Regions from separate parts of the Homo sapiens genome. Here region 1 is linked to region 2. Evidence: fine-mapped expression QTL. A gene starts in region 2. The other region holds a variant in brackets. All regions are shown on one strand. Distances are from middle to middle. Region 1 overlaps USH1C (USH1 protein network component harmonin). Region 2 holds the start of USH1C (USH1 protein network component harmonin).

Region 1 (4,387 bases), 34 kb before region 2:
CGAGAACAGGCAGATTTCTTCCTGTCAAAGCTGCAGGGCTCACGACCCCAACCAGAGGTCCAGAAAGGGTCCCTCTGAGAGTCTCCCGCTGGAAGCTTCAGCCTTGCTGGCATCTGGCACTTTCTTCACTCCCACCTTCCTTGTAAGCTCTCCTGAGTGCTCTGAGATGCTTGTCCTGCTCTCCACGCAGGAACTCAAATCCATGCAGGGAAGGTTAATAAAAACCACTGGTCAGGTGCTATTGACTATGCCCTCCCTCAGCAACCCCTGCTACCCTCAGCTGACATGAGATGCCTTTGCACTGACTCAAGCCTGGCCTCATGGCTACGGGAGTGGAATAATATTTTGTTTTTCCCTTCATGGGATCCAAGCTCCCTGTCTTCCTCAGAGATTGCATGTTTCAAAATAGTCTTTGGATTACGAATAATTAATAAGAAATATGTCTTTTTCAGAAAGACACTGTTCATCTTCCTAACATCCAAGAAAAACATTCCTATTCTTTTAATAGTAAATTATTTCTAGGAACTCTCTCATCTTCATTTTTTCTATAGCTGGAAATTGGCCAGAAATTTCTGGGTATTACACTTCAAGCCAGTGCAGTTGGCCAGTACTGTAGAAAATGGCACTGGAATGTCCTAATACTGCATTTGATGGTACAGTGTTATCACTTCATTTACAGAGCCAAATACGCCCCTGCTTCCTCCTCCCCTCCCTTTTTTTCCCGTTAAATCAGGAGCCATTTCCCATATTCAAGGCTTTCTGGGATAATATCAGGAAGTGACTGGATGTGACAGAGTGCTGGCTATTCATTAACATAGACTTCCAAGTCCTACATTGAAAGTTACCAGCCTACACTAGCAAAGAAGAGCTAAGAGAGAGCAATGAATATCAAATGGACACACCGTTGCTTACCCCAAAGGTCCCAGGCCATTCACCATACAATACAGCACTTCAAAATCAGTGAGAACCACCATATACATGCAGGATGTCCACACATGCACACGGAGGGGGCATTCCTGGAAAATGGGGTGAGATGATGTTTCTTTCTGTCTCCACTCTCAGGAGCAGTGGAGGACATGGGAAACAGCAGTTCTCCCCACTCTTCCTACTTCCAAACATAGCATGCAGAACAGGGACATTACCTTTGGGGTGGGTGGGAAGCTCTGTTCAGGGACAGGGGAGTTAGTGGGCTTCCCACTGTGGTTCTTTGCCTCCCAGTCCTCCACTGGATTGCCTGTGTCCCCAGTGCGGAAGGGATGGTTGCTCAGTGCTTCTTCCAGCGCCGAGGGCAGTGGGCGGGTGGGAGTGAGGTCTTGGGTGGGAACGGATGGCGGGGGAGGGATGGGAATGGGGGGTGGAGTGCGCTGCACCCATGGAGAGGATGAGGCGCTCACATGGCCAGATAAGGGAAGGACAGGGGGCGCCGGGACCTTGTGGGGTGGGTTGGAGGGTGGAGGGTGGGGCATCACAGGCAAGGCAGAGGGAGTCTTGGGGGGATAGTAGAACATGTCCAAAGGGATGTCGTCCAGGTCAGTGGTGTGCAGGTGCAGTCCGCCTGCGAAGCGTCTCAAGGGTGGGGCCAGGGGAGACACAGAAGGCGGGGGAGGCGGGGGCCCTGTGGTCATCTGGGGGTGTTGCAAGGAAGTTCTGTAATTGTCACTCTGCTTAGAGCTCCACTTCACAATACA[G/T]CGAGCACTATGCTCTTCTAATCTGTTTCTCTTGCTACTGGAGACCCACCACCCTTACATCAGAACCATGGGGCGCCATTCCTCTGCCACCTGGATGCCCAGCTGAGGCCATACTAGGCTGCTGTTAGGGAGTGCCCAAATGCAGAAGAGCCCCAAGTTATGCCATCTGTGGGTGGTAAGGTGTTCACAGAGTTCATTCTCTAAACTGGAATGCCCTTGAGAGTGTAAGGGGGACTCTTAGTCATGATGCCAGGACAACAGGCCTAACTGAGACTATCGCAGATGAGCTGGGACTTAGAGATCACTCTGGGAGTATACCCAGAAATACAGACATATCCCTCCTCCTCAAGAGGGGAGTGGGGTGGTAGGGGTGGGCCTGGACAGTGGATGGGCACTGTGAGGCTAGTGACGTTTGCTAGTTGTCATCTCACCTCCCGCTGTCCCCACAGTGGGTCATTCTGAAGACAGCAGGAGGGTCTATGTGGAAAGAAGGGCTCTGTTACCTCTGAAATCTCATTATCAGCAGAGGAAATCTGCTCGAGGCGCGTTTGACAGAGCCTCTCCACCCAATATTGAATCTTTTCCGATTCTTCAAGGTCTTCCCGCTCTGTCTCAGACACCTGGGACCCAGGATCGGCGCAGAAAGGAGAGGACAAAGGGCACATTTGAATAACATGTGGATAGAAATAGCATGAAAGCACTCCTTTAGAAACTCCAGAGTACTGTGAGGTGCATCAGCTATCTAGAAAGAGACCTGGGCTTGTTCCAACTGGCCCTCAAGGAGGCAGCAGCAAGGGAGAAGAGAGTGGCGGGGTGTCAAATTCACTAAGCAGAACTTGTAGGCAAAATCAGAAAAGGGGCTTATGTATTGTGAGGGATTAGCTGGATCCCAGATCCCCATGAACCCTGAGGCTCTTATGATTTTCCAAGAATGGAGTTTTTGTAGCCTCCCCCAGCACATTCCAAGAGTTTAACTTGACTCTTTTTTTTCCTGCTCCATTCTGCCTTGCCCTCAGAAGCATAAGTTCAATCTTATTTTTAATTTTGTGGCTAATTTGTTCATAATGTCAGACCTAATGCATTTCACATTTTCCAGGACTTCTCTGGTTTTATAATCTAATCAAATTGGCATTCTGATTCATGGATGCGTTAAAGAGAAGCAGAAACAATGATACCTCCTACAGCTGGGGAGTTAAGGTTACCCATCTCACCTAGCATAGGAATTATTCATGGTGTAAGGTTGCTTTGGACATGTCTTCATGGGGACAGCCTCAGATATATTCCCAGGTTGATGAGGTCTAGCCTTAGACACACCCTATGTTGAGGGGAGCAGCCTTAGACTGATAGCCTGATTAATTGGGAGATAACCTCGCACCTACCACCTGCATAAGGGGGTTAGCCTCAGACCCATATTCTCAGAGCCAAGCTAAGTTGGGTGGGGGGGGGTCTGGTCTTACAATAACCTGGGAAGGGAGGCCAGAGTGATTCAGACTCGTAGACAGGTCAGTGGAAGCCTAACTTCAAAGCTACAAGCAAGGCAGAAGGGTTAGCCGCAGACCATACTCTAAGTAGCCTCAGAGCCACACCTGAGATGGAGAGGCCCAGCCTTAGACTCTGGTGGGGTAGAGTGAAGAGGACAGACTCAAATCTCTAAGCCAGGTGTATCAAAGGCTAACCTGAGACCTACCATCTGGTCAGAAAGGCTAACCTCAGACTCACACCCCCCGACCAAGGAGGCTAGTTTCAATTCCAAAGCCAGGAGCAAGACTCACACCCCCAAGCAAGGAGATTAGTTTCAATTCCTAAGCCAGGAGCTAACCTCAGATGGCCCTGGGCAGGTGGCATGATCTCTCTCTCCAGGCTGGGGAGCAGGAAAGGGCTCACTCCACCCTTGTATGCCATTTGAGGAGAACAACTCCAGCTGGTCCTCTGGGAGCACATGGAGAACGACCACATTGTGTCCCAGGGTTGCTTGCCTGGCCTGCAGGCAGGACACATACCTCCTGGGCCAGCCGGTTGATCTTTAGCTGCTTTTCCTTCTCCAGCATTTCCTCTTTCTCTTTGTAAAGCTTTTGCTCAAACTCCAGTTCTTTCTTATTCTTTCTCAAGTCCTGCAGGCTGCCATACTTGGCTTTCTTCTTATCTTTTCCTTTCTGAGTAGATGTGGCATTGTTTATATGACAAAGGTTAGAAATAGTGTCGACAGCACAGCACACGGGGCATCCAGTCCTCACATAACACAACCATCCCATGGTGAGCCCCTCCCCCAGCTCTCTCACCACTCTGGACATCAGACCTCAGGTTTAGGACAGGAAGGCCACTGCTACCTACTGCAGAGTGGGAGACACATTCTCTTTACCAGCCAGAAAGACTGGCTTATTAGTTCACTAACTAGCTGTGTGGCCTTGGCTAAGTTCCTTAACCTCTCTGGGCCTGATTTGCCTCATCTCCAAAATGGTAAAAATACCTCCCCCACAGGCTTGCCACCCAGTGCCAATGAAATAACATCCATGAAAGAACTTTGTAAAAGTTCTGTATAAATAAAAAATAAAATAAAAAAATAAATAAGTGCCATATAAATAAAGGGCATTGTGCTGATTTTCCAGTATCTGGCACATGCCTTCTGCATCATCTCATGTTCAGATTCAGAGATGCATCCTGGGAGATTCCAGAGAAAATCTGGGAGGGCTGGCAAGCTT
Region 2 (4,387 bases):
TCTGCAGGTATCAGCTGGAAACAGTGTGGTTACTGTGGGCCCAGAGCAGCCAGTACTTTAATTGCTAGTTAGTTTTGACTGTCTTGTGAGGTAAGTTCTACAAACTCCATCTCATAGCTGAAGAAACTAAAACTCAGGGAGAGTGGGTGGCTTGGTCAAGGTCTTCCTGACAGTGACAGGGCTAAGATTTGGTCCCAGTTCTGCTAACTCCAGATAATAATCAACATGGACATTTCTTGAGAGCTCCCTAAGTGCCAGGGTCTATTTAAGCTCCCCACACACATGTAGGTCTCATTCAGCATTCATGGTAACCTTATTCGTTAAATATTGTTATCTCTTTTCACAAGTAAGAGCACTGAGGCACAGAGAGATTAAGTAACTTGCTCAAGGTCACAGAGCACTTTCCATTATAACACACTACCTTAAATATTACTTCCAACAACTAAGGATTTAGATCACAAACCATTTCTTCCAAAACACTAAGGAAGGGACCCCTACAAAGCAAACAACAGCAAGCTGTAAATTTCTCCCAGCATGTCTGTGTGCCTCCTTTCTATCCTCTGTGCTTCATCCTCTCTCCCCAGTTCCTGGATGATCCCCAACCTGGGAGGGGAAGGCTGTGGCTGTCTCCAAGGCAGCAGGGCACAAAGTCCAGCCTGGGCCTTGCCTAGCGCATGGCGCCTGCCCTGCCTGCACACAGGGATATTAATAAGTAATGACTGTTGCGATGAGGAAGAGTAGGGCAGAGGAAACGTGGAGGTCTGAGGCCCTTTGGAGCCTGTGGGACCTGGGGAAGAGGAACAGGGCAAACCCAGGATCTGCATCAGACACCAGGGACCCTGGAGATGATTCTCACAAAAAAGAGAGAGCAGGTACCCCACAGAGTGAAGGCAGAAGACCTGATGTTATTTCAGGCCAGGGGCAGGAAACTGAAATTCAACCCTGAGTCTTGGGTTGGGGGATGGAAGGCTGAGCTCCTTCAAACTGGGTTGCCTGAAATCTACACTCACAAAATGTCCTTAGTGGCTGAAATTTCTTCCGACATGTCTCTTTGCAACAGGATGTAACAGTGAATGCTCTCTCAAGCTCCCCTTGGTATTCGCCAGCCCCTAAATTCCTGCTGAACTTCCAGCTATCACCCACCCCTGGGAGCAGGACCAGAAATGCCCAAGACCTTGTTTTCAGGAGCCTTCTGCCAGTTTGAGCTGTCCCTTTGTGCCCCTACAAAAGCTTGGCCTCAACACGCAGCACTCAGACATGGGTAATTACCAGGGTAGGGTCTGCCTCCCACCTACACCACCAGCAAAGGGCACAGACTGGGTATGGCTGAGAGGATGCTCAAAACATGCTTATTAAATGAATAACTGACCCCGGGCCCTTGGCCCCAAGCCCCTGTGGCCCCTACACTGGCTAGCTCCTTGGGCTCCTATGGGCCTCTTTATGGGAAGGAAGGAGTTAAGCACCCTGACCTGCCCTACCTGAGCTCAGCTCTCAAACCAGGAAGAGGTTTGGCTTGGTCTAAAGACACTGCCCCTGGGGTCTTTGGGAGAGCCTTGGGTCACACAGTTATCAATAGTTAAGTTATCAATAGTTACCTGCCCCTCAGGCAGGGCCTGTGGGGAGCTCCAGATACCACCCACCCCCCCCAAGCGGCTTCATCCCCAGACTCAGAGGCATCCTAAGACTTGGTGGGGAAGTAGGCTGGATCTCTTTGATGGCCCTCTCTGGTCTCAGGGCCTCAGCAGATTCTGCACAGCTTTGTGAATCATTCTCGAAATGCCCTGTGTGAAACCTGGCCACTTCCAGAGATGGTCCTTGAGAATCCCAGACCACCAGTGAGGCCCCTCACTGGGACACACCAGGGTGGACCCGGCTCTGCCTGAAGGATCTGGCCGGCCAGAGCCCAGCTCCGACGCCCTCAGTACCTCCTCCCTTCCTCCCCACCGCACCCGGGTCAGCACCAGCTCCTCAGCTACTTCTCAGACCCTAAGAAACGCCCTTAGGCAGGCAGGGCTGAAATGCTTCTAACTCATGTTCTGAGGTCAAAAGGCAGAGAGAGAGACGTCTAGTTTCCCTTCTCCCAACCCTCACCTCTCAGATACTGCCCCAGACTGTCTCCACATGCCTCAACAGCCCTGAGCTGGGGGCACTAGGAAGGAGAGGGGCTTGCCCACAAAGGGGGCACCTCAGAAAAGCGGCCAAGACTGGAAGGAATTCAAACCCCAGAGACGTCCCTGCCCCTGGAAGGCAGAGGGAGAAAGGCTGGCAGAAGATCGACTCGTTTAGCAGTCCTTGAGCCGGGAGTCCCCGCATTCCCTCCCTCACTTTACTGGGGATCCCTGCTGCCAGCCAGACGACCCTCGGGTGTCCCAGCCCAACCAGAGCCATCAGGTGGGGCCGGAAAAGGGAGGGGCAGTGCCGGGGTGTCCACCCCCTACCCACCGCGCCCAGGACTCCGGAGTCCCAGAAGCCTGGGGCGCCCTGCAGCTCTGACCTTATGCCGGAATTCTCGGGCCACTTTTCGGTCCATGGCTGGGCCAGGTCCAGCTGCGTCGTTGCACGACCCGTTCCTTCGGGTGCCCGGCTGCCAGGAGCTGGAAAGAGCCGCGACCGCGACCGGGCCAGCCGCCCTCGGAGCTGGGGGCGGGGCCTGAGCGCGGAGGGGCGGGGCCAGGCCTCTGTGGGGCGGGGCCGCTGCGAGGCTGGAGTCGAAGGTGCTGAGTCGTCGCCTCCCACTGAAGCCTGGGAGCAAATGGGCCCCAGTGTGCCTATGGGCCTGAGGTGGCAGTAGCTGGGCTTCAAGCTGGTATTTCTCTGGAAGTGGTACCTGAACACATGCGTTTGAGGAAGAAGATCGTGGAGACGTAGGGAGGAGGTTTGGGACTTTTTTGTGGGGACCGGAATAGAGAGATACGGAAACTATTTACACGGGCGGGGGGCGGGGCAATCTAGTCCGTTTTCTCTGGATATTCTTTTTTTTTCCCCCCCGAGACGGAGTCTCGCTCTGTCGCCCAGGCTACAGTGCAGTGGCATGATCTTGGCTCACTGCAAGCTCCGCCTCCCGGGTTCACGCCATTCTCCTGCCTCAGCCTCCCGAGTAGCTGGGACTACAGGCGCCCGCCACCACGCCCGGCTAATTTTTTTTTTTTGTATTTTTAGTAGAGACGGGGTTTCACCGTGTTCGCCAGGAAGGTCTCGATCTCCTGACCTCGTGATCTGCCCACCTCGGCCTCCCAAAGTGCTGGGATTACAGGCGCGGGCCACCGCGCCCGGCCTTCTCTGGATACTCTTGTCGAGGTTCATGGCCCTCCTGGACTGTCAGCCCTTGCTACGCCCTCACCTCCAGCGTACCTTCAGTCCTGGCTTCCTCCTGCACTTTTCCACCAGGGAGAAATCAATCCTTGTTCTGTGAATTCCTTGGGGACAGGGCTGGGTTTTACTGTGGGCCGCAGGGGTCTGAATCAGTGTGTGTGAGAGTGCCCCCCTCAACTGATTTCCCCTCCCACCTTCCCTAACACCTCCACCCCCAACAAAACAAGACAAAACAAAACCCAAACCCAACACACTCACATATCCATCGAAGCCTGGCAGAGCCTGGCAGTGACATTTTGATCTATGGCTGACCTTCACCCAGGGCCCAGACCCTCTGGTTCATTTAATTCAATTTGGTCAGCATTTGCTTAACTCCTAGGTCTAGTGCTTGGTGCAAAGACAATGATGAACCAGGCCTGGAAAGGAATGAAAGGAAAGATTCATCAAAGACAATGATGAACCAGGCCTGGAAAGAGATGAAAGGAAAGAGGGGCTAGGAGAGGGGTGATAAAAATGTGTAAATCAGAGGCTAAGTATGGGGCTTGTGCCTGAACTTAACCCAGGGAGGCACCTGAGCCCTTTGTGCCCTGTCAAGGGCAGGGGCAAGGAGATGGACAGCAGCTTACATCAGGTAACCACTTACAATTGTAACTCTGGGGCACCTAAACACCCCTCTGCGTCCCTCTCCCCAATAGCTGAAGTTTTACAAGCACACTATTTTTGTTGCCTAGTTTAAGATGTAAATCCCTCTTGGAGAAGAACCTTAAAATATGATCTGTTTTCTCACCTTAGCATTAACTATTAAGTCAGCGATAAAATGGAAAGACTTGTGGGATTTTTGAATGGTCCAGAAAAGGCCACACAAAATGCATTCCCCTCCGACTTACTTCATTGATTCTCTACATTGGAAAAGAATGTCATATGGCTGTTTATTTTGTATTTAGAATCCTGGCAGAGGTGAATGAATGTCCTTATCCAGGGGAATGCTGTTCACCTGCCACACCAATCCTTATTTTACATTGGCCATTACCCCCACAGACTCCCTCCACCTTAAAATGCCCCCTGCTTTGTTTTG

Evidence for each region. PIP is the estimated chance that this variant, and not a neighbour inherited with it, causes the effect.
Region 1: its variant is the best candidate, but not a certain one, in a credible set for the expression of USH1C in lung (TOPMed, PIP 0.59).

What each region holds. Positions count from the first base shown.
Region 1 is chr11:17,508,214-17,512,600 of GRCh38, forward strand. It overlaps USH1C (USH1 protein network component harmonin), which reads right to left. Exons shown (of 27, transcript NM_153676.4): 16 at 3,689-3,841; 17 at 2,192-2,308; 18 at 1,143-1,625. Among named protein-coding and RNA genes, the nearest start is that of ABCC8, 34 kb to the left of the region's middle. The variant G/T (reference allele first, on the strand shown) is at 1,689.
Region 2 is chr11:17,541,778-17,546,164 of GRCh38, forward strand. It overlaps USH1C (USH1 protein network component harmonin), which reads right to left and starts at 2,639. Exons shown (of 27, transcript NM_153676.4): 1 at 2,495-2,639. The coding sequence starts at 2,530.